2 separate regions of the Homo sapiens genome follow, and region 2 is linked to region 1. Evidence: fine-mapped expression QTL. A gene starts in region 1. The other region holds a variant in brackets. All regions are shown on one strand. Distances are between the middles of the regions.

What was found.
Region 2: its variant is fine-mapped to the expression of TLR5 in monocytes after LPS (Fairfax 2014, PIP 0.93). The same link has a PIP of 0.9 or more in whole blood.

Annotation. Positions count from the first base shown.
Region 1 is chr1:223,141,622-223,144,530 of GRCh38, forward strand. TLR5 (toll like receptor 5) reads right to left here and starts at 1,627. Exons shown (of 6, transcript NM_003268.6): 1 at 1,575-1,627; 2 at 27-142. It overlaps LOC124904522 (a long non-coding RNA gene), which reads left to right and starts at 1,734. Exons shown (of 2, transcript XR_007066895.1): 1 at 1,734-1,977. RefSeq lists a silencer at 1,416-1,785.
Region 2 is chr1:223,109,016-223,111,924 of GRCh38, forward strand. TLR5 (toll like receptor 5) reads right to left here. Exons shown (of 6, transcript NM_003268.6): 6 at 389-2,909. The coding sequence ends at 1,440. Among named protein-coding and RNA genes, the nearest start is that of TLR5, 33 kb to the right of the region's middle. The variant T/C (reference allele first, on the strand shown) is at 1,494.

The DNA of each region.
Region 1 (2,909 bases):
AATTAGACAGGCGTAGTGGTGGGTACCTGTAATCCCAGCTACTTGGGAGGCTGAGGCAAGAGAATCGCTTGAACCCTGGAGGCAGTGGTTGCAGTCAGCCGAGATTGTGTCACTGCAGTCCAGCCTGGGCGGCAGAGTGAGACTGTCTCAAAAAAAAAATTACATATATATATATATATATATATATATATATATATATATAGAGAGAGAGAGAGAGAGAGAGAGAGAGAGAGAGAAAGAGAGAGAGAGAGATTATTTTTGTACTGCTTAGTAATTAGCTTTAGCACGGTCTCTCCTCTGGGACCTCCCCTGGAATTTCCCCACAATCCAGTAACTGAATAATTAGCATCCAGCCCCACAGAACTTCTCCCAGGGCCCTGCTCCAGGGCTTCCCTTCTGACTGGCTGTGCATGGCACACTGGGAATTGTTTTCTGCCCACAAGAACAAGGGTGAACTGAGTCAAGGAGTCCAAGAGATCTTGGACGCACTTCTCAGAATTCGGAGGGGCTGGGTAAATGCAGGAGAAAATTGATGAAACCACATTGGCCCTGCAAGAGCCTGACTGCTCCTGCACGGTAGCTACCCCTAGCATTAGCGGGGAGTCACCAATGCCTCTTCCAGGCACTGAGCAAGAGGGCGGCATTACAGATGCACTTGCCGTCCAAACAGATCATCTCATTGACTAGGTGACTGCTCAGCAACAGTATCTGAAGGACACTAGGGTTACTCTGCTTGTTTGCAGTTCACGGTGCTGGACGGATGTGTTCCCAACACTAGGTAACAACACCGCTCTCCCTCCTCCGGGAGAAAGCCGCAGCCGTCGATTCCCACCCAACAGGGCCTCAGCGCCTTCCCAGGGCAGCACCCTCACTCCTGCAACCACCAATCACCCAAGCCACAGCATGGTCCCAGACCCACCCTCGCCCCTTAGGAAATGGCTTTCCAATTGTGTTTTCACAGGAGCATGGCCACTGGGCAATGATCTTCACAGGCAGGCTTTTTTTTCCCCCTCTCAACATAAAGGCCAGCAATATTTACCACGGAGTCTTGGCCAGTGTGCACTGCCTGGTGCTGTGGGGTGGGGTGTTTAGGGCCTTTTGTTGAGCAGCTCAGTGACTTTCTGGGATTTCCATGGCCCTGCTGGAGATGGCCCTCTGTCTCCCTTTTCCAAGGAAGAAAGTGACTGGGGACAAGCCACCTGCCTCTTCCACAGGGTGGGGGCGAGAGTGACAGCGAGACAGCACAAGAAGGACCCGCTCTGTTTCAAAGCGAGGATGTGAGTGACTTCGTCTGTGCCGAGGTCTCTTCGTCTCCAACCTGCCGGGCACAGGGCACCCACATGACACGCTCACCCCGTCCCTGGGCCGAGGGACCCCACGTCTCGCGGGTGCCGCGGGGCAGAGAGCGCCGCCTAGTGAGGCGGCGCGAGTTGGACATAGACTGGAAAATAGACCCGGACAGCCCGGGAGGAGGGCGGAGAGGAGTCCGACCTCCGCAGGCAGCCGCGTCCCCGCCCCGCGCTGCCTACGACTTAGGGCCCCCGGCCCATCCCCTGCCGCTGCAGGGCGCTCACCTCTGGGACGCCTCCCCGCGCCGCCTGCGCCACGGTTGGCTCCTCCCGGACGCAAAAGCGGCGCCCTCGCTCGGGCTCCTGAAAACCTCGCGGCCCCGCCCACGGAAGGGCCCGCCCACCTGCCAGGCCACGCCCCCGTCTCGGCCACGCCGCAGCTCAGGGTTTTCTCTGAGGGCTGTGAGAGGCTAGGCCCGGGGAGAGGAGGCAGAGGTTATGCTCCGGTCTCTGCAGACTTCCACAGTGTCTATCGAGATCACACATGCCAGCATTGCCCCCTCCCATCCTCTCCTCATCGTACGGAGGAGGAAACCCAGGCCGAAGACCTGAAGTGTCCAAAAGCACAGCCAGGCCAAAGAGAAGCACCATCCCATGTTCTCCCACTCCCACTCCGGTGCTTCTTCAGGTAGGCTAAACTTCAGGCTAAAATGTGAAGATCACAGTGACACATTCCTGTCAGCAGAATCTGCTGCATATGTTTGGGAGCTGGGGTGTTTGGAAGCTCCGATTTTGTGTGGAGGACCCAAGAGAGAAGACAGACCCTTCCTGTCCTATAAGAACAGTGCTCCTCCTGCCCTAACTTCTCTTTTCCTTTTTCTAACTCCCTCTGCCTATGGGGTTTGCTGAAACTTTCAGGAAAAGGGACGTGTCAAAAGAAAGAAATGGACACCCCAGAGGCCGTGCAACCACAGGGTTAAAAGGAGGTAGCCTTATGAGAAAGCGGTGGAGTGGCTTTCTGGGGTGAAACCCAGTTCAAGGACAGAAATAGCACTGTCTTGAGTTAAGACTGGTGGTGGGGGAAGCCTGGGGGTGGGGCGCAGACTGCAGGCGGAGGAGCTCCCTGCCACCTGCCACTTGGGGTGTAATCACAGAGCAGCTGACACTCCCCACTCACTGCCTGGAGGAGCTTGGCGGTGGGATCGGGCAAGGCGGGAAAGATAGGTGTAAAACAAAGCCTGGCACTTAATTACAGTGCAAAGATCTCATTATAGAGTCTTCTCAGCTCCCCTCCTCGGCTGGCAGCTTGAAGCCTGAGTGACAAATTGCCTAGGTAGGTCTCCAAGGGCTGTATGTAGAGGGATGAAACCACCTCCCTGCCCACCCGAACCCCACTGTGGGGGCTGTGGAGAGGGAGGGGATGTTCACACTCTGGCATATGCAGGGGGCAGTGGGGAAGTCTGTAAGGGCACCTAGAAAGCAGTAAGAGCTGGGAGCCACAGTGGCCCTAGCCTGACATAAATAACACCTTGCTGGGGCAAGCCCAGTGTTCCCTCTTTTGGTAGTGGAACCGAGGGCAAGGTTGGGGACAGCTTGACGTGTGGCACTGTTTACTCTGCA
Region 2 (2,909 bases), 33 kb before region 1:
ACAGTGGGGACTGCATGGTGTGCGTGAAAATAATGCCATCGCTGGGTGCAGGGAAAGCTCGGTCTCATTGATTAGAAGTGGCCAAAAGAAGTTGGGATGAGAATAGCGTGTATGTGTGTGTGTGTGTGTGTGTGCGCGCGTGTGTGTGTTGGAGGAGTCAGGATTGAGGGGCCCAGTGAGGGGAAGAAGGTGACAGTTTGGAGAGCTGAGTCCCAGACCCATGTGTACCCCTCAAACTGCAGGAGCTGACCTGGAGTTACGCTGGACTTGGAGGAGGCAGTGTGTGAAGCTATGGGGTAATTTTGGCACAGTTTCCTTGTTTTAAGTATTCTTAATCCTTTTGCAAAAACACATTTCTATATTAATAAACATGAAAAAAAGAACAGAATGGAAAATACACATAGATTTCATTTAAGATAAAAAAATACAACTTCAGTGAAATTGCAACTGCCCCCCAGGAGGCCTTCAGTGTATGTGTTCTCTTGTGGTCATTAGGGCAACGAAGGAAAAGATCTGAGAAGCCCTGACATCCTTGGCCAATTTAATTTTCACAGGAATTCTATGACATAGATGCTGTTACGTGAGAAAATGTAGGTCCAGCAAGGGCATACCAAGGCCAAGGTTACATGGCTAATACACAGCTGACTCAGAACTCAACCCAGGATCTGTGTGCAAAGTCCATGTTCTTCATGCAACAGCCTGAGCAGCTGATCAATGAGGTGTGCTAGGAAACAAAGCTGAAAAGGTAGGTTGGTGATAAATCATGGAAGGTCTTGAAGGCCAGGCTTAAATAAAGGCAGCATGTGAGAGAAAGTTCTTGGCTCACTAGGGCGAGACCTGGAGAAGCCGAAGGTAAGAACATGAAGTGCAGTACAGTCACAAGACAGGTAGTGACTCATTCATCCCAGCTTCTTTGGGGCCACCTCTTATCTATGAGACAAAGTGTGACTTGCACTCAACAGTGGCATTGTTTCTGTGGCAAAAGAAGGAAATGTGCCTCTGCTTCTGTTTGTTTTCTACTTAATGTTGTTTTGCAGAACACAGAGAACGCAGAATCATGGACCATCCCATTTTTTAGCTGAATGCTAGAGAAAGCACGTCAGCCATCTGCAACTTCTCCCAAGGTGCCCTTCCCATGATTAGGATACATTCCATAATCAACACAGCAGGACAGAACGGTATTATTGGATCTGAAAGAAAATCAATGGAGACTGGAAACCTCTAAGGGCAGTTGCAATTTTCTAGATCTATTATTTTCCATTTGGAGGTTAGTGAGACAGAACATGGTGTTGATACGAAAATTGAGAGATTTATGTTGTTTTCATAGTAGCAAAAAGAAAAAAAAAACCTCCAGAGAGGACCCCAAAATGATAACTTGGTGCAAATACAAAGTGAAGAGTTATTTGTGGCTTGAGATAAGTTGGAAATTGCTCCTTTGATTAGGAGATGGTTGCTACAGTTTGCAACGGAATGTTATTGTCTTTCTTCTTTTC[T/C]TTTTCTTTCTTTAGTATCTGTTGAGAGAGTTTATGAAGAAACCAGCCAACATCCTGGAGATCCTCAGGCCACCTCAAATACTGCTGTTTCTGTACAAAGCCTCTGATGGATTGATGTTTCATCAACTGGTACTGGGACAAGGACCCAACCACCACCATGATGAGAGCACTGTTAAGGTCAGATAAGCACCTGCCCTGGGCATAACTGAAGGCTTCAAGGCACCAGCCATCTCTAAGGAAGTGTCTGCTCACAAGACAAACGATCTTTCTACTGTTCCAGATGGCATCCTGGATATTGGCAATGCGGTTTTCTCCTGGGACAAAGTCTCTTTCTTCAAAGCACAGGTTGAATCTGTTTTGGTCACTGTATTGAGTGTCCAGGTGTTTGAGCAAAGCATTCTGCACCCATGTGAAGTCTTTGCTGCTGAAGCACAAATAGGCATCATATTTGTACATATCAGGTTCTGTGCCCTGGGGATGGTCCTTGAACACCAGTCTCTGGGCTGTCTTATAACAGATAAAACAGAAGCCCCGGAACTTTGTGACTGTGAGGATGGTCATGAGGAACAGAGTCAGAGTGACAGTGCATACAATGAAAAGGGAGAACTTTAGGGACTTTAAGACTTCCTCTTCATCACAACCTTCCGTGGAAAGAGAGAAGAGGGAAACCCCAGAGAACGAGTCAGGGTACACACAATATATGTCTGCAGGAGGCCCAGCTATAGTGACATTGGTGTGATTAAGCCAATTGATAAAAGTGCTAAGTTCACATTCACAAATGAACTTGTTATGAGTTATATCCAAGACACTAAGTGATACAAATACATCAGGATTAGGAGCTAGGAGCTGGTTCCTGGATATGTCCAGGATCTCTAAATTAGCAGGTAAATCATTGTGAGAAAGAACTGTCAGCCTGTTGGAGTTGAGGCTTAGTCCCCTTAATGCAGTCAGATGGCTAAATACTCCTGGTGGAAGGGAATTAAGATAGTTATGATTCAAATACAGAACTTGAAGATGAGAAAGTCCCTCAAAAACATCCCAACAGAGCTCAGTTTCCCAGGCAAGTTGCAACATATTTTCTCCAAGGAAAAGCTGTTCTAAGCTGGGATTCTCTGAAGGGGTTTGATCTCCACTACAGGAGGAGAAGCGATTTTGATTTAAAATGAGAATCTGGAGATGAGGTACCCGTAGGAGAAAGTAGAGAATATCTAGATTTTCTAGCCTGTTTTCTGATAAGTGGATGAGGTTCGCTGTAAGGTTGATCTTTGGCAAAGTCACTAGTTTATTGCCACTCAAGAAGATATCGGGTATGCTTGGAATAAAATGAATGGTTGTAAGAGCATTGTCTCGGAGATCCAAGGTCTGTAATTTTTCCAGGAATTTGAATGTTTGGTCTTGAATTATTGCAATGTGATT